3 separate regions of the Homo sapiens genome follow, and regions 2 and 3 are each linked to region 1. The links come from fine-mapping of genetic effects on gene expression. A gene starts in region 1. Each other region holds a variant in brackets. All regions are shown on one strand. Distances are between the middles of the regions. Region 1 holds the start of GHRLOS (ghrelin opposite strand/antisense RNA). Region 2 overlaps TATDN2 (TatD DNase domain containing 2). Region 3 overlaps TADA3 (transcriptional adaptor 3).

Evidence for each region. PIP is the estimated chance that this variant, and not a neighbour inherited with it, causes the effect. A credible set is the group of variants that fine-mapping cannot tell apart.
Region 2: its variant is the best candidate, but not a certain one, in a credible set for the expression of GHRLOS in prefrontal cortex (GTEx, PIP 0.73).
Region 3: its variant is the best candidate, but not a certain one, in a credible set for the expression of GHRLOS in memory regulatory T cells (Schmiedel 2018, PIP 0.84).

What each region holds. Positions count from the first base shown.
Region 1 is chr3:10,277,857-10,285,867 of GRCh38, reverse strand. It overlaps GHRLOS (ghrelin opposite strand/antisense RNA), which reads right to left and starts at 4,916. Exons shown (of 6, transcript NR_073568.1): 1 at 4,866-4,916; 2 at 2,265-2,347; 3 at 15-120. It overlaps TATDN2 (TatD DNase domain containing 2), which reads right to left. Exons shown (of 8, transcript NM_014760.4): 6 at 7,406-7,589; 7 at 6,805-6,983; 8 at 4,650-6,647. The coding sequence ends at 6,843. GHRL (ghrelin and obestatin prepropeptide) reads left to right here. Exons shown (of 6, transcript NM_016362.5): 6 at 1-202. MIR12127 (microRNA 12127) reads right to left here and starts at 5,517; the gene lies at 5,416-5,517. It also overlaps LINC00852.
Region 2 is chr3:10,257,925-10,265,935 of GRCh38, reverse strand. TATDN2 (TatD DNase domain containing 2) reads right to left here. Exons shown (of 8, transcript NM_014760.4): 3 at 5,266-5,799. Among named protein-coding and RNA genes, the nearest start is that of TATDN2, 13 kb to the right of the region's middle. RefSeq lists a silencer at 1,812-2,001. The variant C/A (reference allele first, on the strand shown) is at 4,791.
Region 3 is chr3:9,779,399-9,787,409 of GRCh38, reverse strand. TADA3 (transcriptional adaptor 3) reads left to right here. Exons shown (of 9, transcript NM_006354.5): 5 at 70-211; 6 at 301-404; 7 at 1,985-2,094; 8 at 3,197-3,382; 9 at 6,861-7,443. The coding sequence ends at 7,053. It also overlaps a transcript of OGG1 not described here. Among named protein-coding and RNA genes, the nearest start is that of TADA3, 9.1 kb to the left of the region's middle. RefSeq lists a silencer at 4,448-4,497. The variant G/TG (reference allele first, on the strand shown) is at 4,620.

The DNA of each region.
Region 1 (8,011 bases):
CAAGCCTTACTCACCTCTCTCTAAGTTTAGAAGCGCTCATCTGGCTTTTCGCTTGCTTCTGCAGCAACTCCCACGACTGTTGTACAAGCTCAGGAGGCGAATAAATGTTCAAACTGTATGCTGATGTTCCAAATGGGAATTTATTTCAAAGAGGAAAAGTTAATATTTTACTTTAAAAAAATCAAAATAATACAAATAAAAATAATTCTTGGTTTATGGTCTGTGGGAAGGGAATAAAAGGACAAGTAGCAAGGCCAATGTGCATGTTTAGAAAACCTAATCACACCAGCTCACTCAAGCAGAGAAGCTACTGCATGTGCATGCATTGTGTGGAATTAAGACTGGGTTTCTTAGAGAAGGAGGAGAGAAAGGGGGAGAGTAGGAGGGAGAGGGGAAAAGGAGGAGGGAGAGGAAGAGAAAGAAGAGATAAAGTGGGACTAAGAGAAAGAGGGAAGAGAGGAAGAACAAAGACACAGTTCCTTTAAACATCAGGGCTTCCTGAGTGCAAGGCTGCATTAACAGCTTATTAACAACCAGCCAGGGCTGTGTGGACAAAGAAACTTCAGGATGACATTATCGAAGCCAACATCCATTCAAGATTGGAGAGGAAGACAGGAATGCCCAAGAGTGAATCTGAAGTTAGACGTTAAGTGAGGTGCCCAATCACGGCTCTTGGGCACTGCTAGACAGCACTGAAAGAGCTGCATTCTCCTTCCTCCCTTCTCCACTACTGAGAAGGCCTGACAAAGCAAATGCCTCACATGGGCAAGGCTGGCCGTCGCCATGGTTCCCTTACTGATACCAGGTGGGATCCCCAAACATTCCCTCAACTCCAGTTCACAGCAGACACGAGCCTTGACTCTTATGTTCCACAACTTAATTCCAGTTACGACACTGGTCTTCCCGGGGGAAGGCCACTCGGTCATGCCCACCTTAGCCTAAACATGTGGACTGACTTGACTGTAGGCAACGGATGGGACACATCGCTAAGGGGAGGGAAAGGCAAAGAACGAGGTGGCCCCAAAGAGCAGCACCACAGACTTGCCAATTCAGCCATCTGAGCGCTTGTGGGAAACATGCAGGAAGCCGTCTGCAGAGACAGTTGGGGTAATGCCCACACTCTGGAAAACCCCTACCACAGAGGGTGCTAGGAGCCGAGCGTCTCCCCAAGTAAAATTCTGGCCGCCACACATGCAGGCACTAACTACTGATCAGGTGCGGCAGGCAGACAGAAACCCAACTGCTCTCCCTCACATAGAAGCTGTGGTCTGTGAATGCCACCGTCATCCAGGGACTCTTAGAAATGTAGAATCTTGGGCAGCACCCCAGCCCTAATCTATCAGGATCTGCATTTTAACAAGATCCCCAGGCTACTTAGTAAACGGCTGATGGGAAATGGCTTAGAATCCCCTTCCCAGGCGTCACAGCACACTGCAGGCCCCCTACTCACCCCTCCACCCTCAGACAGCCATGCCCCTACCTCCCCAGGCACCTGGCACAAGTGGGTACAGAGATCAACACACTTGTCCTGGAACTTAACTGTCTCAGCTCTGTCACTTAGTTGGGATACGACCTTGATTATCACTAACTGCCCACAGCCCTCTTATCAATAGCTACAGAAGAGGAGCAAAGGCCCAATATGGCCAAAGTGGTCAGGAGATGGTTTCTTTTTGAGAAAGCACCACTGATTGGGCTTGGGAGAGGATGGGTACCAGGCTCTGGACAAATGCTGGTCACCTGATGCTTCCCCCACCAAAGACAAGAACTTACTTCTCTCTCAAAGAAATCACAAGCATTATTAACCGCCTGCCTGGGTCATTCAAATAGAAACAGATATTGCGCACCCACTATGGGCTGGGCACTCTCACCTGTGCCAGGCAACAAGGTGTAGTGCAAAGATCTGGGCTTTGGCCTCGGACCTGAATTTGGATACCAGCTCTGTGATCCAGGCCAAGACTGAATTTCTCAGGCTCCTCACATGTAAAATGCCTACCTTGCTGGGTTACTGCCAAGACTGAACATGAGGTCTCACATGAGCTGTAGCTGGCAAAGGGCCCGGCACGTAGCTAAGCATTCAATTACTACAGCAGCCAGCACTCACTGTCACACCCCTGATGTACACCAGGCACCGTGTTAAATGCTCATGCAGATTAATGTGATTTCACTTCATTTTCACAGCAAGCCTACTTATGAGGGAGAAAACTAAAGCTCAGAGAAATTAAGTAACTTTCCTAAAGCACACAGCAAGCACGTGGCCGACTCACAGCCAACGCCACAGGACTCAGGGGCTGCTTTTTCATCCGGTTCCACAGCCTCTCAGCCAGTGCAGCTTCCCTCGCTCTACTGCCTAGGATGAGAGAGGTTTCCATATTCATTCATTTTCCTTCAGAATACACTGGGTGAACTTGGTAGAGGGGTGAGGACAATTTCAAGTCAACAATGGGCAGAAATATAATTTATCAAAGAAAATGGTTGGAGGACACCCTTGAGAAAATGTATTATTTCAAACATGTTCCTGTATCAGCTTTCTTAAACCCACTCCTTTATGGATCGTTTAATGATACCACTGTAACTTGAGGGTCTCTAAAGTGGGGTGTATGTACCCCTAGGGTGAGCGAGCTATTTGCTGGAGAAAAAAATTCTCCTTGTGAAAAAACTTTTACTTTGTGTATAATTAGCATAAGAGCACACGTATTTAAGTTCTCATGCACTTATAGTTGTGTGTTCAGAAATCATCTTGAGAGAGTGCACAGAAAAGGGTTGAGACGCCTCAACTAAGCTACCCACCTTAATCTGAATCCACCTACAAATGTCACTGGCATTTGGGGGGCCGAGGCAGGTGGATCACCTGAGATGAGGAGTATAAGGCCAAACAGGCCAACATGGCAAAATCTCATCTCTACTTAAAATTTAAAAAAAAAAAAATTAGCCAGTCATGGTATTGGGCGCCTGTAGTCCCAGCTACTCAGAAGGCTGAGGCACGAGAATCACTTGAACCTGGGAGGTGGAGGTTGCAGTGAGCTGAGATCAGGCCACTGCATTCCAGCCTGGGCGACAGAGTGACACTCAGTCTCAAAAAAAAAAAAAAAAAAAAAAACCAAAACCAAAAAAAAATGTCACTGGCAAATGAGCACTTTTTAATACAGTGATCCTGAGAGGGACTGGCTGGCCACTAATCACCATCTTTGACAGAGTTTGCTTCTTTAATCACTGTACATTCCGGTGGCCATTTGCCCTTACTTTACAAAAATGAACAAAGCAAAATTAAGGTGCTGAAAGCAAACGATGAGTATCGGTCTCAAGCTTCCTATAGAAAGATGGAAAAACAACAGAAAAGCCAAGAACAGTCACAAGGACCATCACTGAGTGGACAAAGCCAACTGCACATTCAACTGTGAAGGAAATGAAACAAAGTTCAGGACGATGCCAAAAATACATAATCAATGATTGTATCTAAAAGATGAGGCAGCAACAGAGACTTCAAAGGTGTTCAGCATTCTTGGAAGGAAGAGAGCCTTTCTTTTTATGCGTAAGTTTACTTTTTTGGCCGGTGCACTTGTATTCAAGAATACCTTAGTACAAAATAGGAGGGCTGAGTGCAAGTAATGAAACAGAATTTCCTCCAGAGTTTACCCAGAGGCATCAGGAATTCACAGTCCAACGCCCACCATCCAACTGATTCATCAGTACCCCCAGGGACTAGATTTTTCTTCCTCCTACAGCCTTGAGCTGGAAACAAAAAAAAAACAAAAAAAAAAGAAAAGAAAGTACCTACATAGGTCAGAAAGAAGCAGTGCATCTGAGTTCCCAGACAGTAAAATTACTTAACACTCTAAGGCTGTAGAACTTTAAGAATTCTTTTCTGGGGGGAGGCGGGGGGAGGGGAAAGACAGAGTCTCGCTCTGTCACCCAGGCTGGGGTACAGTGCTGCGATCTTGGCTCACTGCAACCTCCACCTCCCGGGTTCAAGTGATTCTTCAGCTTAAGCCTCCCGAATAGCTGGGACTACAGGCGCGTGCCACCCCACCCAGCTAGTTTTTGTATTTTTAGTAGAAATAGGGTTTCACCATGTTGGCCAGCTTGGTCTCGAACTCCTAACCTCAAGTGATCTGTCCGCCCTGGCCTCCCAAAGTGCTGGGATTACAGAAGTGAGCCACCATGCCCGGCCGAACTTTAAGAATTCTTATATGCAGTTTAATTTTACAGAGAGCCACATAGATACTCAAGAAAGTCTCCAGCTGGCCGGGCGCGGTGGCTCACGCCTGTAATCCTAGCACTTTGGGAGGCCGAGGCAGGTGGATCACGAGGTCAGGAGATCGAGACCATCTTGGTTAACACGGTGAAACCCCGTCTCTACTAAAAATACAAAAAATTAGCCGGGCACGGTGGCAGGCACCTGTAATCCCAGCTACTTGGGAGGCTGAGGCATGAGAATGGCGTGAACCCAGGAGGCGGAGCTTGCAGTGAGCCGAGATAGTGCCACTGCAGTCTGGCCTGGGCAAAAGAGCAAGACTCCTTCTCAAAAAAAAAAAAAAAAGAAAGAAAAAAAGTCTCCAGCTACCTGGATTCTTGGGTTACAATGCTGGCCAACAACCAGACTAAACCACTGCATCACTCAGGTAAGTCTATACAAACACGGAGAGACTGGGTTGGCTAGAGGATCCATCACTTTATTTTCAGAAAAAGATGGCCAAAGAGGGGAAAAAATACAGAGGCATTCCCACAGCACAGTGAAAACAATTAGCCATCCAAAAAGCTGAATCAAAAACAATGCCAATCAGCTTTCACGCCCACACAGGTGAGGTTTCACTGTGCAACAGCACATAAATGATAATCTAAATCCTAGAGAGAAAAGTAGATAGCACCTTGTGCTTTTCCTTGGCAGGTGGATGGCACAGGCTTGGAGACTTCCATGTCATCTCCGCTTTTCCTCCTCTAACACAGGGCTGGTTGGTTTCACCTGCAGGCACTACTGACTTCAGGGCTTGCTGGAGAGGAGATGGTTGTGCTGCAGTTCACTTGGTGACTATAAACACTTTGATATGCTCGGCAGTCCCCCAAGTCTTCCAAGCAGGAAATCAGGTCCCCCCCGACTTCCCACATGGGCCAATCTGCAGCACAGACAACATAACAGCACAGCTAATCCGTGAAGACGGACAGTGAATCAAGGCTGAGTTCCAGGCCAGTGACTTGTGTACCAGGGGCAAGATGGAAATGCCAGATAGGAAATATTAAATCCATTCCATTTTAGCTCACAAGGCTCAAATGCGCCTTCCAAAAACACCTAGAGGAATTTAGGATTCCATAAGGGATGTATTTTACAATTTAAGCCTCCAAGACCACAGACGAGGGACTCCAGGTGATCTATCCACCTCACTGCAGATCAGGGTGAAGGATCCTTTGAAACAAAGTACAGTCTCCTCTCACTTAACCCTGGACCATTAGAACCTCTAGGGCCTGTAACGAGTATACCTTTACAAGGCACCAGCAGGCGGCAGAGCAGAGCTCAGGACTTGAGATGACTCAGTTGCTCAAAAGGTGAAGGAGAGGCTCTCACTTCTAAAACGCAGAAAGACAGGACACAGGAGAGGCAAAGCCAAGGGGGCACCCAGGAGATGCGGGAGAAGGACTGGTACATTTGCAGACACCAGGCCTGCTTATTCTGCATAGACAATGTAACATGGCTGAGCTGCCCAGCAGAGCTTCGGAGAATTACGCTGATTCACCTCTCAACCTGGGCGGGGTACACAAAGGACTGTACACAAGATGAAATGAGGATTATTTTTGGTCAAATGTTCCCAAGAAGGGGGCAAAAGTGAAACAAAAGGAGGCTGGCAGCCCCTGACACAAGACTAGCAGGTAGTTTCCGCCGCAAACTGAACCTTATCAGCTTAACACACCCACACAGCAGCCCTGAGGGCATCAGTGAGGAGGAAGTACCTCCTTTGGGGTCCTCTTCCCCAAGAAAGCCTCTTCCCGGAGTCCCCCAGTCTGTCCTGGATCTCCATCATGGACAATGAGTGCTCCTCTGCACCCCCCCATATCAATGGCAGTGGAACCAATGAGACCAGCAGCTGAAGTCCTTCTGCCTGTGCCGACGCTGGAGTTGACACCAGAACAGTGACAGTCAAACTGAAGAGTTATCCAGGGAAGGGAGGAGGACGACTTCACTGGTTGCAAGAAAATAAACCTCCGAGATAGGTGTCCAGTTAATTTCCCCCAAAAAGTTTCCCAGTTGGAAGTCTGTTTTTAGAACCGAGAACCAGGAACTGAGTTACACACCCACATGTGCTTAGACAAGTAGGCGGGTGACTTTATTCACCAACTACTCAAAAACAGGCTGCAGAGAACAGAATTTGGACTGCCAAACTCACTGTACCCTCATATCGCACTCTTTCTTCTTTGCTGCCTACCCTGGAGCATTTTGGCTGGGAGGCAAAATCCCAGTGCTATTACAGGCAGTCCCCATACCCCTCATTCCATGCCCACCCCACCCCACCCACCACCCAGAAGCTGAAGCCTTATGACCCGCTTGGAGGAAAACATCCTGTCCTGGTTTTCTGTGTTCCAATCAGCTCTCTAAACACATCCTCGACCTGAGACACAGACTTCAAGCCAGCCTGTGTTCTGTCAGGCTGCTGGTCGCCCTGGAGGGTGGAAGAGAAAAAGAAGAAGGTTCCAAACCATGTCACTCAAAACAAATCAGGCTTAATGCTCATACTATGTTTATATTCTTTACATTAACAAAATGCAACAAAAGACTTGTCCTGGTTTTTAAAAAATACAGAATGTGAGTTTTACGACCTTTTCTAGGAGACTCCCGAGGACTGTACCTTCTCTGCTTAAAGACTGTAGAGGCGACTGGTGTTCTCACGCAAGGCAGCCAAGGTGAGGGAGAGTGGCTGATCTTTGACTCTGGCAATCTCTCGGACCGTATGCAAGGCCAGGCCCGGGTGGGCATACTGGCAAAGGCTTTTGGGAACCTGGAAGACATCAAGTGGTCATAACATCATTGTGCCATGTGTGCACAGTCATAATCTAGAACTCCCTCCCTGTCCCTTCCCCAGCAAGGACCTCTTTGGGGCTGCCCTGTAGAGACCCCTTTACCTGCAGGTGCAGGGAGAGTCCTAGTCATGGGGGCTCTGGGTGAGCAGGGTCCCACGCTTCCTTGGACTACCCTCTACAGGGTAGGGCTTTGCACTGCCTGGAAGAGAGTGGTTACCCTTCAGCTTCTCAGCCCCCTAGACTTTTGGTTCTGCAGAGTAACAGCAAGGAGGCATCTACACAGCCCAGGATGGGACCTGGAAGTCACTGGGGCTCTGGCCCTGCCAACCTTGTAAGGGTGACCACCCACCTCCCCACCCTCTCCCTCCGGTGCCTCCACTCAGCCTGAAGACCCCCTTACCTGGCGAGGGAGGAAATAGGGAGCATCCGTTTCCACGATGATTCTCTCCAGTGGGATCTGCCTCAAGGCTTCCCGGGCCTCCCAGGCAGAGGAGTATGTCAGCACTGCCGTGAAGCCCACAGACATGTTGGGAAAGTACTTCAGCAGGGGCTCAATGACCGGGTAGCTGCCGGTGAAGCAATGCCTGGAGACAGAACTCCACATCAGGGCTGCTCACAGTCCCCTCTGCAGCAGCCCCCAGCTCCCCCCACACCCATCACCCCTTTTCAATGATTCCCAGAAATGGAAAGACTGCATCCTAGGGAAGGACTCCACAGTAAACACAGACAAGGGCTGGCTCCAACACAGGAAGCCCCGAGATGGCACTTGGTGAGTGATCAGAGATCACTCAGAGATACCACGCACACCACAGAGTGCTCTGCAGTCCCCTGAGATGACCACCACAGAGAACACACTGGGATAGGAAATGCTTCTAACACTGAAGAGGAGCAAAATCAACAACTGTGGCCCCTATGATGACAACGACAGCATATAAAAACTATGCCCAAGTAGTCAAATGAACTGAAAGGAAATCTAACAAAATACTGGGGAGTCGAACTACAGGTG
Region 2 (8,011 bases), 20 kb after region 1:
TGCCAGACTTCCAAAGTGAGGGTGAAGCCGCAGATGAAAATAGGAATTAGCTGAAGTCTGTCAAGATCTCCAGACCCCTGCTCCCACCCTGTGCAGATGGCCTGCCCTTTCCCCACCCAGCAAAGGACAAAAGTTGATGCTTGGAAAAGTTAAACCAAGGGGACCACAGAAAAATAAAGGTGCAATGAGCTATGACCATGCCACTGCACTCCAACCTGGATGACAAAAACTTTTTTTTTTTTTTTTTTTTTTTTGAGACGGAGTCTTGCTCTGTTGCCCAGGCTGGAGTGCAGTGGTGCAATCTCAGCTCACTGCAAGCTCCACCTCTCAGGTTCACGCCATTATCCTGCCTCAGCCTCCCCAGCACCTGGGACTACAGGTGCACGCCACCATACCTGGCTAATTTTTTTGGATTTTTAGTAGAGACGGGGTTTCACCGTGTTAGCCAGGATGGTCTCGATCTCCTGACTTCATGATCCACCTGCCTCAGCCTCCCAAAGTGCTGGGATTACAGGCATGAGCCCCACGCCCAGCTAAAATTTTTAATTTTTAAAGTTCTGGCCGGGCGTGGTAGCTCATGCCTGTAATCCTAGCACTTTGGGAGGCCGAGGCAGGTGGATCACCTGAGGTCAGGAGTTCAAGACCAGCCTGACCAGCATGGTGAAATCCTGTCTCTGCTAAACATACAAAAATTAGCCAGGCATGGTGGTCCATGCCTGTAATCCCAGCTGCTCAGGAGGCTGAAACAGGAGAATTGCTTGAACCCAGGAGGCAGAGGTGGCAGTGAGCTGAGATCACACCACTGTATTTCAGCCTGGGCCACAGAGTGAGACTCTGTCTCAAAAAGACAAAAAAGAAAAAAAAATTGGCAGCAATAAAAAAAAAAAAAAACCACGCACAGGAAAAAAAAAAAAAAGACCAAAAAAAAAAAATCAACATAAACGTTAGAAGATAAACTTGAGCCAGGCGCGGTGGCTCACGCCTGTAATCCCAGCACTTTGGGAGGCCGAGGCGGATAGATCACCTGAGGTCAGGAGTTCGAGACCAGCCTGGCCAAAATGAAACCCCGTCCCTTCTAAAAATACAAAAATTAGACAGGCATGGTGGCATGCGCCTATAGTCCCAGCAATTCAGGGGTCTGAGGCGGGAGAATCGCTTGAACCTGGGAGGCAGGGGTTGCAGTGAACCAAGACCAAGCCATTGCACTCCAGCCTGGGTGGCAGAGTGAGACTCTATCTCAAAAAAAAAAAAAGAAGATAAAGTTGAAGAAACCATCCAGAAAAATTTTTTAAAAAGGATTCACTGGGAAGAAAAGAAAATTGGAATTTCCATCCGAAAGACCAAGCATAAAATAGATGGTCCAGAAAAAGAAGAAACAGACAAGAAATCAAATAATCAAGAAATTTTCCCAGAACTTTTCTAGGCTAAGGATGTACTGAACAAATTCGACTTATTTTACTCTTTCCTGAAACCTCACTAAAACTAAAGAATCTAAAAACCAAACAAAAAACAAATAAAACCCCTCTACAATAACAAAAACACCAGAACAGGAAGAACAAGAGACTACAGTGATCACGCACTGGAGGCTAGAAAGCAGATGGCCAAATAACACCTCACTGGCAGACCAAGAGAAGGCTGAGACCTAAGCTAGGCACCAGGAAAGCTTAGAACAGAGCAGGCACTCGCGGTACTGGGCACCTTGGGAACTGGAGGAACTGGAGTTACAGAAGAACATTAAAAGGAGGAGGACAGGGTGAAATCTGGTTTCCAATGAGTTAGATCCCAGATTCCCTCCTCATACTCAGAGAAGGTGAGTTGTTTGAAGACAGTAAAACAAGAGGATCTCTAGAATAAGGCCTGGTCAGCTCAGTGGAGGGCACTGGTACTGCACCAAAAAGACAAAGATTAAGTGAATGCTGACGCCGCCCCCGCAGCCGCCCCTTTCGCTACCCAGCTCCCAGCCACCTTTCCTCCTAAGCAGGCTGAAAAACACTCCTCTGGGCAAGGTGACCAGTCTCGAGGCTTTCCTAAAAGCAGTGACATGGCAAGGGGAAGAGGGTTATATTCTCCCGATCATCCCAAAGCAAAGCTCAAAGTCTTTACGCTCAGAGCTTCCAAACAGCTTTTTAATCCTCCCATTCTTGATCATAAACAGACAACCAAAGATTACCAGACATGTGAAGGCAGCCTCTAACACAGAAGAGATCAAAAGAAACGGAAAGAAGCAACTTAAAGAAAACTAAAACCAAGCCAAAAAACTACCATGAACTCCCTAAAAGAGATAACAGAAGATGAAACAAGAACAGAGATGTTATTAAAAAACAAAAGAGCTCTTGGATAATAAAAAGCATGACAGTAGAAAAGTAAAACTAAATAAACAGCTGGGTTGGAAGATAAAGAAAAGGAAATATCCTACAAAGTAAAGCAAGAAATTGGCTAGAAACAAGGGAGAAAGGCAATAAAATTACAGGACCAGTCCTGAAAAATCCAACATCCAAATAAGAGAAAGAAGGTAGAGAAGCTAGAGAGAGAAAGAGAGAAGAAAAATACGGAAAGAAAACATCAGCGAAGTACAGTAATTCACGAACTTTTCCCACAGCTAAAGTACAAGGGTTTCTAGATTGAAAGGGAATGTCCCATGCTAAGCAAAGTAGACACCACCACCATGAAATTTCAGAGCCCTGAGATCAAAATATATTCTACAAGATTCCACAGAGGGAAAAAAAAAAAAAATACAGGTTGGGCACGGTGGCTCACACCTGTAATCCCAGCACTTTGGGAGGCTGAGCCGGGCGGATCATGAGGTCAGGAGTTCGACACCAGCCTCACCAAAATGGTGAAACCCCATCTCTACTAAAAATACAAAAATTAGCCGGGTGTGGTGGCACATGCCTGTAATCCCAGCTACTCACAAGGCTGAGGCAGGAGAATCGCTTGAACCTGGGAGGTGAAGATTGCAGTGAGCTGAGATCACGCCACTGGACTCCAACCTGGGTGACAGAGCAAAACTCTGTCTCAAAGCAAAAGAAAATAAAAAATAAAAAATCATATACCAAGGTTCAGGAACCAGCATAGCTTCAGACATCAAGAAAACCAGAAGAGGCCAGGCGAAGTGGCTTACACCTGTAATCTCAGTACTTTGGGAAGCCTAGGCAGGTGGATCACCTCAGGTCAGAAGTTTGAGACCAGCCTGGCCAACATGATGAAACTCTGTCTCTACCAAAAATACAAAATTAGCCAGGTGTGGTGGCGTGTGCCTGTAATCCCAGCTACTCGGGAGGCTGAGACAGGAGAATCACTTGAACCCAGGAAGTGGAGGCTGCAGTGAGCCAAGATCACACCAGTGCACTCCAGCCTGGGCAAGACAGAACGAGACTCCACCTCAAAAAAAAAAAAAAAAAAAAAAAAGCCCAGAAGAAAAGGAGCAATGCCTTCAAAATCCCAAACAAAACAATTTCCAACCTGGAATTCCAAAACCAACCAAGCTTGTAATCAAGGTTAAAGGTAAAATAAAGGCAATCTCAGACACATGTTTACCAAAAAAAGTTTCTCCATGTACCCTTTCTCAAGAAGCTACTAGAAAAAGTATTCCACCAAAATGTGAGAGTAAACCAAGGAAGAAGAACATGAGAAGACACAGAGTATAGGTAGCAGAAGACTCAATCCGGGAGAAATGTGAAGGAGGCTCCAGAGAGACAGCTGCCAGCTGGCCTGACGGCAGGCAGTCCAGACCAGAGCAGGACAACAGAGGGCTGAGGACGTATACCTCCAAGAGAGAAAAAAAAGAAACAGATTCCTTATTTTGACAGTATTGAGAAGGATTTTACAGCTCTCGCAGTTTGGGGATTAATTAGTGAAAGGTACCAGGAAAACCAAAGGAAAAACAAAGTAATGATGAACTTTAAGGAAAATGAAGTTTTACAAGAAAGAAAATGTGATCAGAGTATACAAGGCGACTCAGCTGTGAACATGGCAGTAACAAATCTTACACAGACTTAACCCAAAAGGTATTCAAGCCACACAGGGAGGCTGCAGAAAGGGGAAGCTAATGTGTCCCTGGGTGTGGGTGCTTCTGAAGGAGGTATAGAGAACTAAATTCTCATCGCCCAAGCAAGAAGTCCTCAGACATCTAAAACTGAAAAACTGATCAACAGTAAAGATTATTTAGAAACATGGGGTAAGTACTAGAAGAAAGAGCTAAAGATGAGAGAAGCTGCCTGCAGAGCAGTAGTAAAGGATGGGTGGAGACGAGTAAGATGGAGGAATGTGGCCTGGCACAGTGGCTCATGCCTGTAATCCCGGCACTTTGGGAGGCCAAGGCAGGTGGATCACGAGGTCAGGAGTTCGAGACCAGCCTGGCCAACATGGAGAAATCCCATATCTACTAAAAATACAAAAATTAGCCGGTTTGGTGGCGCACACCTGTAATCCCAGCTACTCAGGAGGCTGAGGCAGGAGAATTGCTTGAACCCAGGAGGTGGAGGTTGCAGTGAGCCAAGATTGCACCATCGCACTCCAGCCTGGGCAACAGAGCAAGACTCTGTCCCAACAACAAAAAAAAAAAAAAAAAGAAAAAGATGGAGGAATGCTTCCCCTCAATTATAAGCTATGTTAAAAATCACTAGTTTCCGTCCAATGACATCCTTCCCTTCTTCTCTGGTTATCCAGGTACAAGTCTGCCTAGATAAAGGCTGATTTTCCAGACTCCCTTGCAGCCAGGTGTCAGCCGGGTTTCCCCGCTCTTGTCAACAGCAGATACAACATGTGCAACTCTTGAGCCAAGCTCTTAA[C/A]AGGGAAGGAATGCACTCTCCTCTTCTCCCCTTCCCACTGGCCAGAATGCCCAGATAACAAACCCTGAGTCCTATCAGAGTATCCATTTCACACCAAGAGATGGACACTGTGTTGAGGGGTGATAGAGAATCAAGACAAAAGGTACCAGTATCTCTGACATGATGGAGCCATCCTTCTTAAGCCAAACTTATATTCTGTTTAAGCCACTGTGATTTTGGCCTTTTACACAGCAGCTAAACCCATATCCTAACATATAAATCCTTCAAAAAAAAAAAAAAGCACTTAGTTTAGGTTTATTAATAACTCTGAAAATCTGAAAAGTATGTTAGAAGAAAACCATCAGTTTGTTCCCTGGAGGCCTGGTTAAGTAAAGTACTATTTTTAATTAGTAACACTTAGGATCAAACTAGAAAGATGGAACACATTTCATCAACAGAACTAAAAAGTCAGATGCCTGGTACAAGCTTTACTCACCTTTTGGATTTCTAAATGAGAGTCAGAGTCATCCAAGAACTCTAGGGGTGGAGAGCATTTGTCAATGACAGTCCTTCGGTCCCCAAGGGGCTCCTCACTGGGTTTCTCTTGAGGGTCTATAACTACTCTCCTGTCATAGAAGCTGCTCCTCTCTGGCACTGTCTTATCCTCCTCCATGCTGACCTCTGGGGTTGCGTCTTTCTCCTTCTGAGCAGCAGTGACTGTGACACTCCTGGCTGCTCCTTCTGCAGTCTTGGCTGGTCCTTCACTCCTGGCTGGTCCTTCTCCATGGCTGGGATGCTCTGCTGCGCTTGGTTTTGCCCGAGTGGCAGCCTCTCCCTTCCTTTTTGGCATCGATTTCCCCAGGATGCCCTGGATAGCCTTCAGGTAGATCATTGTGGAGCCCTGGTCTCGAAGTCTATCCCTCTTCCTTTTCTGGACCTTGTTGGGTTCCTCAATTGTATCATTCTGACCCTCAGCTTCAGCTGCAAATTCAGAGTTTGTGGAGTTATGAGAACTATCTTTGGAATCAACCTGGGAAAAAAAAAACAGAATTGAAAGGGCTGTTCCAAGGGCACTTTCGTACATGAAGCATTTGGCAAATTATAAATCAGTGGTGGTTCTACCAGTCAAAGGGAAAGTGACTGTGGCTAAGGCAAAGGTTCTCTCCGGGTGGTGAAGTGGCACTGTAAGAGGGGCTGATTGCTGCCATTTCTTAGCATTCGCCTTCTCATGCTCAGCAGATGATATCCTTTCACTGCAAGGGGACGGAAGGAGCTGAAATGAACACTCTCATTAAACCAGACTGCAAGCTCCTGGAAGGCAAGGACTACACTTCAGGCAAAACAGCAGCTCAAGCTCTTCCCACTGGAAAGGGCCCTAGAAACCAGCTAGCCCAATCCCATATCTAAGGGTAAAGGAAACCTGAGGACCCAGTGAGGGGAAGGGCTAGCCCCAGGAACTCCAATCCCCCAGTTCTGAGTGCAGTGTTTTTCCCACCATACCCAAAGCCTCCTGAAAGTTCTCTGCAAACACTTCCCCTCAAATAATCAACTTGGTTTTGGAAAATACCTCAGTTTCTCAGTGACTGCACCAGGGTCAGTCAAGATAGACTGCTCCCAACAACAAACCTCCTCCAAGACGGAAGTGAAGCCTCAGCCCCCTCTTGCACCCACTCACTCCAGGACTCCACACAGAAAAAGCTAGACTTTGTTTGCCAGACTATTTTGATGTGAAATTCTAATCCAGTCTAATCCCTGCCGGGTGTAAGAACTCTCCACAAATGTCCTCCTAAGGCCATTCCATAAGCAGTAAACCATTATCCCATTTGCATTCCTAAGTCATTTCTATTAAATTCCTCTCAAAAGTAAATACAGACCAGGTACAGTGGCTCATGCCTGTAATCCAGCACTTTGGGAAGCCGAGGCAGGTGGACTGCTTGAACCCAGGAGGTCGAGACAAGCCTGGCCAACATGGCGAAACCCCATCTCTATAAAACACACGGGGCGCGGTGGCTCATGCCTGTAATCCCAACACTTTGGGAGGCCAAGACAGGAAGATCACTTAGGCTCAGGAGTTCAAGACCAGCTTGGGCAAGGTGTCAAAACTCTGTCTCTACTAAAAATTACAAAAATTAGCTGGGCCATGGTGGCACACGCCTGTGATCCCAGCTACACGGGAGGCTAAGGCACAAGAATCGCTTGAACCTGGGAGGCAGAGGTTTCAGTGAGCCGTGACGGCACCACTGCACTCCAGCCTAGGCAATACAGTGAGACCCTATCTCAAAAAAAAAAAGGCAAAATTGCTTTATATGTATATATTCGCAAACAAGTCTAAAAAGCTAAACTGTTTATAATGGATCTCTTTGGGGAATGCAGGGAAGTAGAAAGAGACTTAGGCTCGGCTGGGAGCAGTGCCTCACACCTGTAATCCCAGCACTTTGGGAGGCCGAGGCAAGTGGATCACCTGACATCAGGAGTTCGAGACCAGCCTGGCCAACATGGCAAAACACTGTGTCTACTGAAAATACAAAACTTAAGCCAGGCATGGTGGCGGGCACCTGTAATCCCACTTACTCAGGAGGCTGAGGCAAAGAATCGCTTGAATCGGAAGGCAGAGGTTGCAGTGAGGCAAGATCGTGCCACTGCCCTCCAGCCCAGGCAACAAGAGCAAAACTCTGTCTCAAAAAAAAAAAAAAGAAGCAAAATAAAAATAAAATTACAAAAATTAGCCAGGCGTGGTGGCACATGCCTATAGTCCCAGCTACTCAAGAGGCTGAGGCAGGAGAATCACTTGAACCCAGGAGGCGGAGGATGCAGTAAGCCGAGATCATGCCACTGCACTCCAGCCTGGGTGAGAGAATGAGACTCTGTCTCAAACAAACAAACAAACAAAGGCTTAGGTGCTTATATTATAAGCTTCTTGTATCATTTGAAATTTTTTTCCGAAGAGCACATCATATTTTTTTTTAATCATTATCCTGAATCAAGGGCCAAAGGAAAATAAAACTTAAAACAATCATAAACCTAGCTGGGCGCGGTGGCTAATGTCTGTAATCCCAGCACTTTGGGAGGCCGAGGCGGGCCCATCGAGACCATCCTGGCTAACACAGTGAAACCCCGTCTCTACTAAAAATACAAAAAATTAGCCGTGCGTGGTGGCGGGCGCCTGTAGTCCCAGCTACTCGGGAGGGTGAGGCAGGAGAATGGCGTGAACCCGGGAGGCGGAGCTTGCAGTGAGCCAAGAT
Region 3 (8,011 bases), 500 kb after region 1:
TGAATGAATGAATGAAGCATGGCTGGCCAGTGCTTACCCACTCAGGGTTGGGTGCCATCTTTTCCACAGATCCCACCCCTGGGGAAGCACTACTCCCAGCGCTGGGCCCAGGAGGACCTGCTGGAGGAGCAGAAGGATGGGGCCCGGGCAGCGGCTGTGGCTGACAAGAAGAAAGGCCTCATGGGGCCACTGACCGAACTGGACACTAAAGGTAGGCCTCTCACCTCCCTGCCAACCCCAGGTCAGGACTTGAATTCCAGAACTTCAGCCCACCTCCCCTCCTTTCCTGTGCCCGCTTAGATGTGGATGCCCTGCTGAAGAAGTCTGAGGCCCAGCATGAACAGCCGGAAGATGGATGCCCCTTTGGTGCCCTGACGCAGCGCCTCCTGCAGGCCCTGGTGGAGGTGAGCAGCCTAACCCAAAAGAGGAACCATATTTACTTTGTGTTTTAATGTGTTATGCTTATTTTTTATCGGAATTTATCATACATTTATTAGGTTGGTGCAAAAATAGGTTGGTGCAAAAGTAAAAACCTGGACTAATATATAGCAAAAGATTGGGAATAATATATAACTTGTGCACCTAATAGAAAAGTGCACAGATCATAAATGTACAGTTTTCACAAATGAGCTTGTATTACCAGCCTGGAGATTACAAAATGAAACATTACTATATCCTAGAAGCCCCTCTCATGCCCCTGTTTTTCTCCAACTTTCCCCAAAGGTAGCCTTACTCCACAATTACTTTTGCTAAGCATCTGTTGGAGGGGCTTTATACACATCCTCCCACTGGAGGCCAGGACAGTGGTTAACGCTGTGTTACAGATAAGAAGATTGAGGCTCAGAAAAGGGAACTGTTCACTTGAGGTCTCACACACCAGGATTCAAACCCTAGCTTCAGGGGCCCTGTCTTTATACCTGCTGGTTGACCTTAGACACACCCTCACACTCTTTCACCTCATTGAGACTCAGTTTTCTATTCTGGCTCAAACACAAGAGTTTATCTCATGGAACAGTCTGGGTACATGTTGCAGGTTATCTAAGGTAGGGGAAGGGGCAGGTCTCTATCTCATATCATCAGACAGGGACCCCAGCTGACGGTGGCCTTGCAGTCTGCACAAGGTCACTCTGGGCGTAATTGTCACTCCAGTCCCACAGAATAAGAGCAAGGAGGCCGGGCGCGGTGGCTCACGCCTGTAATCCCAGCACTTTGGGAGGCTGAGGCGGGCGGATCACAAGGTCAGGAGATCGAGACCATCCTGGCTAACATGATGAAACCCCGTCTCTACTAAAAATACAAAAAAATTAGCCGGGCATAGTGGCAGGCGCCTGTAGTCCCAACTACTTGGGAGGCTGAGGCAGGAGAATGGCATGAACCCAGGAGGCGGAGCTTGCAGTAAGCCGAAATTGTGCCACTGCACTCCACAGCCTGGGTGACAAAGTGAGACTCCATCTCAAAAAAAAAAAACAAAACAAAACAAGGAGGAGTGTGTGAAGGAAACTTTTTGGCCCATGCCTAGCTATGGCTCTTATCTCTTCTGATCACTTTCCCCTGGAGAGAACTTGTCACATGACCATACCCGCCTGCAAGAGAGCCTGGGAAGTACAACTGGACAGGCATTGCCTAGCTGCCGTGGAGGAAAGAAGAGTATGGCATTCGGACAGCTAGCATCTCCGCCACAGCAGGCCTAGCACACTGCCTGGTGCGTTGCAGACGCTTCACAAACCTTAGCTGTTCATTACCATCATTGAGTGTTAATCATTTCTCTTCTGTGTTCCTTTTTCTTCACATCAGTACGAAAATAAAAGGGATTTCTAGAATGATCAAAGCAATTTGGGATTGGTATGGGAAGGCTTCCCACGGTAGGTGGGATGGGAAAGATAAAAGGATATTTCTGGTGTTTGAAGACTGTCAGTGTAGGTCAGAAAGGAGCAGGAAAGTGGAACAGCTATTTTTCCTTCCACTCATTTTTGTGGTCTTCTAGGAAAATATTATTTCCCCTATGGAGGATTCTCCTATTCCTGACATGTCTGGGAAAGAATCAGGGGCTGACGGGGCAAGCACCTCCCCTCGCAATCAGAACAAGCCCTTCAGGTGAGTGGTGTCCTATCCACAACCCACAGTCTGGCCCCCGCTTCTGTTGGCTTCTCTCCATCTCAACCTGGGGAAGTCCTCATCAGTAAGAGGCTGGGGGCAGTTAGGTGAAGCCTAATAGCAGTCTCAAGTGTGAGTGATGACCCAGCGTGTCTGCATGCACAGACTGAGTGCAGGGTTGTTCAGCACAGAACTGTTCATACCATAAATAACCCAAATGTCCTGCTGAAGGGGAATGGTTGGCTAAATTGGCATAACTCCATATGATGAAATAACTTGGGGCTATTAATCATATAGCTGCAAGTATAGAGAAATATAGTTAAATGACATGAAAAGATGTAAATTATAGAGTGACAAGTGGAGAAAATATTAGTTGTAGCCCAGTATGGATGGTATAATACTATTTTTACTTAAAATATATTTCTTTTTTTCTTTTTCTTTTTTTTTTTTTGAGATGGAGTCTCGCTCTTGTCGTTTAGGTTGGAGCGCAATGGCGCAATCTTGGCTCACTGCAACCTCCGCCTCCCAGGTTCAAGCGATTCTCCTGCCTCAGCCACCAAGTAGCTGTGATTACAGGCGCCTGCCACCATGTATGGCTCATTTTTGTATTTTTAGTAGAGACGGGGTTTCACCATCTTGGCCGGGCTGGTCTTGAACTCCTGACCTCAGGTGATCCTCCCACCTCGGCCTTCCAAAGTGCTGGGATTACAGGTGTGAGCCACCATGCCTGGCTTACTTACAATATATTTAAATATGTGCACATAAGGGAAAAAACCTGGACTAATATGTAGCAAAAGATTAGGAATAATATATAACAAAATCTGGAATATATATAATAATATATAACAAAATAATAGTAATTCTCTCTGGGTTGTTGGCATTATGGGTTTTTCCATATTTTTTGAATAGTAGATACATACGTTGCTTGTTTTAAAAACCAGACCAGATGTGTCTGTCCCTCCCTTTGTATCTGGATAGATACAGAGGGGGTGCCCAAAGGGAAAGGCAGGTTTTCACTGACCTTGGGAAGCCCTGGGAACCTCCAAGGTGGGCCCTTCTCCAAGCTGGCTCTTGAGTCTGACGGGCCTGCCTCCCGCTGCAGTGTGCCGCATACTAAGTCCCTGGAGAGCCGCATCAAGGAGGAGCTAATTGCCCAGGGCCTTTTGGAGTCTGAGGACCGCCCCGCAGAGGACTCCGAGGATGAGGTCCTTGCTGAGCTTCGCAAACGGCAGGCTGAGCTGAAGGCACTTAGTGCCCACAACCGCACCAAGAAGCACGACCTGCTGAGGTGAGCGTTAGCAGGATGCACAGTCCCGGGGGTGGCCTTGGAGGCTGTGGCCACGGCTAGTCACCTTTCAGGGGTTTTACAACAGGCTTTCCAATCCTGGCTGGCCTCTAAATCACCTGGAGAGCCTCGAAAAAAACAGCAGTGGCCAGTCCACCGGGTATGTCCCAAACAAATTCTGATTCCACAGAGTGGGGCTCAGGCATCTGTGACTGACCGATTGATTTGATTTGTTTTTGTTTTGTTTTTTTTTGAGAGGGAGTCTCGCACTGTCACCCAGGCTGGAGTGCAGTGGCATGATCTCGGCTCACTGCAAGCTCCGCCTCCCAGGTTCATGCCATTCTCCTGCCTCAGCCTCCTGAGTAGCTGATACTACAGGCACCCACCACCACGCCCAGCTAATTTTTTTGTATTTTTAGTAGAGACGGGGTTTCACCGTGTTAGCCAGGATGGTCTCGATCTCCTGACCTCGTGATCCACCCGCCTCGGCCTCCCAAAGTGCCGGGATTACAGGCGTGAGCCACTGCGCCTGGCCTAGTTTGGTTTTTTAATTATGGTAAAGGCATAATATAAAATGTATCTCCATGGGAGGCTGAGGCAGGAGAATCAGTTGAACCTGGGAGGCGGAGGTTGCAGTGAGCTGAGACTGCACCATTGCATTCCAGCCTGGGCAACAAGAGTGAAACTGCATCTCAAAAAAAAAAAGAAAAAAAATTTACGCTTCTTAACCATTTTTAAGTGTACAGTTTAGTAGTGTTACCCATATTCACATTGTTGTGTGATTTATTTTTTGTCTTTTCATGCTTCTTTTCTTTTTATCCCCAAAGTTTTGTTATTAAAAATTTGATACACACAGAAAATCTGAAAGAATCATACAATAAACATCAGTATATTCTCCACCTAGACTAATTAACTGTTAACATTTTGTTGGAGATCTGTGATTTTTATTTGCTCATCACAAGAAATTGACCAGTGTTTTAGGACATGTTCTTTTGGGAATCCATCACAGTGCCTGCCATTCATTTGATGTCAACTCCCATCCATCTTGTTCTGCATTGATCACGAGGGTATAGGTGACATCTTGAGGAAGACTGTGGAATAGCTACCCTTTAGGTAAAGAGATAGGGAAGCAACCCGAACAAGTCTCTTTGCTTCTCACAGACAAGTGCTGTGTCTTAACTTCATAGAGCCCTGACAGGACAGGGCACATTCATTCATTTGGCCTTTTTTTTTTTTTTTT[G/TG]AGACGGTGTCTCACTCTGTTGCCCAGGCTGGAGTGCAGTGCCATGATCTCGGCTCACTGCAACCTCCGCCTCCCGGGTTCAGGCAGTTCTCCTGCCTCAGCCTCCTGAGTAGTTGGGATTACAGGCATGCACTACCATGCCAGGCTAATCATTTGGCCATTCTTACTGTCTCTTAGATATTGTGCTGGGGGCCAGCAAGAGAGGCAGAGCAAGGGACTTGCAGATTACTAGCAGATGATCAGTAAAGATAAGTGCCATTAAAAGGAGAGGTAGTTGCTGACAAGCTGCCAGGGTATTTAAGGATAAGAGTGACTAATGTATGCTGAGGGCCTACTGTGTGTCAGGGGCTTTATGTACACTCTCTCAAGTGTCTTGACAACAACCCAGGAGGGAGGAGCTATTTTCGTTGTTTACCAGATGAGGAAATAAAGGCCCAGTGAAGCGAAATGCTCTGCTGAAGGTCACACAGTCAATAAACAGCAAGCTGAGACTTGAACCTGTGGTTGAATCAAAGCCTCTTTCTATAATAGTTTGTTTTCTCTGAAAGGTGAGAAGAAGAAAACACAGATGGAAGAGGCACTGAGGGAAGCAGAGGGAGAGAGAGGAAGAGAGAGAAAAGCAGGCATGTGCAGTTACAGAAGTAGTGGGCCCTAGCTGGGCCTGGTGGCTCATGCCTGTAATCCCAGCACTTTGGGAGACTGAGGTGGGAGGCTTGTTTGAGCTCAGGAGTTCGAAACTAGCCTGGGCAATGTAGTCAGACCCCCTTCTCTACTAAAAATTTTTAAAAATCAGCTAGGCATGGTGGCACATGCCTATAGTCCTACTCAGGAGGCTGATGTGGGAGGATTGCTTGATCCTGGGAGGTAGAGGCTGCAGTGAGCTTGATCAGGCCACTGTACTCCAGCCTGGGTGACAGAGTGAGACCTGTCTCAAAAAAAAAAAAAAAAAAAAAAAAAGAAGTAATGGGCAATGAAGAAATGGCTTGCAGCTCTCAGGAAACCAGAGCACAGCCCTTACCCTGCTGCAGAGCAGCTGCAAGGCCTTAAGCAGCCCCTGACCTGAGCATCTCCTTCCCCTTCTGGAAAACTGGCAGGCTGGACTCAATCACTAAGTGACCTTCCAGCTCCACCATCGATGAAATGTATAAATCAGACCCTGTTCAGAGAGATTGATCTGGTGTCTCACCCACCTCCTGTCAGCCTCAGGCTGCCTAGACCTTAGGGGGCTCTGGAATGCAGATGCCGACGTAAGCAGGCCTTCTGCTGGCACCGGAACACCTGAAACAACAGTGTTTAAAAACAAGAGTTTGGCCCCAGCCTGCTCCAGATCTCCCCCTCACTAACTGTGGGATCCTGGGATCATCTTTGAGCCTCATTTTCCTCACGGGTAACATATGAATAATAGTACATATTTTGCAGGGTTGTTAGGATTAACTGAAAGACAGAGAGAGAGAGTGGGTGTGCCTGTGTGTGTGTGTTTGTGTGTGTGTATGTATATATATATATATTTTAGAGACAGGGTCTTACTCTGTTGCCGAGGTTGGTCTCAACTCCTGGCTTCAAGTGATCTTCCTGCCTCCATCTCCCAAAGCGCTGGGATTACAGGCATGAGCTACTTTGCCCAGCCTACTGTGTATATTTTTAAGACCTTTTTTTTTTTGAAGACACAGTCACGCTCTGTTGCCCAGACTGGAGTGTAGTGGCATGATCATAGTTCACTGTAACCTTGAACTCCTGGCCTCAAGCAATCCTCAGCTCCCTTGGAGTTGGGACTACAGGTGTGCACTACCACACCCAGCTAATTTTTTAAATTTTTTGTAGAGACAGTCTCACTATGTTGCTCAGACTGGTCTCGAACTCCTGGGCTCAAGTGATCCTTCTGCCTTGGGCTCCCAAAGTGCTGGGACTGCAGATGTGAACCCCCATGTGCAGCCAAGACTTTATTCTTCTAGAGCAGTTTTAAGTTCACAACAAAATTGAGAGAAAGGTACAGAGAATTCCCGTATCTCCCTGTCCCCACATGTGCACAGCCTCCCCCGTGATCAACATGAGTTAATATTTTTCAGGAGCTTAAGATAGTGCCATGTAAGTGTAGGTCAGTAACTGCTTTTTGGTCACGACTGTATGACACAATCCACAGGCATGCCAGCCTGGGCTGGTGGGTAGGCTCGGTCTTGAAGAGGGAGGGGTTGTTCTCTGGAGGTGGGCTGACCCTGGCACCTGGCTGGCTGGTCCCCACAGGCTGGCAAAGGAGGAGGTGAGCCGGCAGGAGCTGAGGCAGCGGGTGCGCATGGCTGACAACGAGGTCATGGACGCCTTTCGCAAGATCATGGCTGCCCGGCAGAAGAAGCGGACTCCCACCAAGAAAGAAAAGGACCAGGCCTGGAAGACTCTGAAGGAGCGTGAGAGCATCCTGAAGCTGCTGGATGGGTAGCCCTCACCCCTGCCTCAGGCTGATTATCTGGCCTAGGGGAGGGGAAGGGAGGCCCACTTCCTTCTTTGGGCACAGGAAACATTGGCCTGTGGCTGTCCCTCAAATGGCGGCAGTCTCTAGAGGGCCGTGGCCCTTCCCCTGAGGTCTTTTGGCCTAGCTCTGTACAACCAGGACACAGGAAGCCCTGCTGGGCTAGCCTGAGGCCTAGTCTCTGCTTGGTCCCCGAGATGGGGTTGGAGGGGACTTCGTTTCTGGGTCTTCCTCTTCCCCTCTTTACCATCCCCCACTCCCTAATCCCCTACCCCTGTCTCCCCTTCAAGGACTTCTCCCTTGTGGTTTTGTAAAGTGCAAACTTAAGAATAAAGTGACTGCTGTGGTTTTTCAAAAAAAGCATCCAGTCTTTGAATGTCTGTTACAGTGGGGAGGAAGGAACCAGTGTGGGTGGTAAGGTTTGTGGGGGGTATGCTTGGTGGCTCTCAGCCCATGGCCACTAACCCATGGCATTCAGTCAGGGAGAACTTTCTGAGTACCTCTTTCTGAGGATACTTGTGGCTGCACGTAACAATGCCCCCCCAGCTCAAAGTGGATTCACAGTAAGGAAATGTGTTGGCTGCAGGATGGGCAGTCCTGGGACAGAGTGGCCTTCACGGTTAGCCAATCTAGCAATTCTTCAGGGTCATCAAGGGTCCAGGTTTCTTTTTTTTTTAATTTAAGTTCTAGGGTACATGTGTACAACGTGCAGGTTTGTTACATATGTATACATGTGCCATGTTGGTGTGCTGCACCCATTAACTCGTCATTTACATTAGGTATATCTCCTAATGCTTTCCCTCCCCCCTCCCCCAAGGGTCCAGGTTTCTTAGGGGTCACCACACTGCCCTCCACAGTGTCGACCTCTGCCTAAGGTGAGTCCTTCTCTGGCTGTAGTGTGGCAGTGGAGCAGTTGGGGCCAGATGCT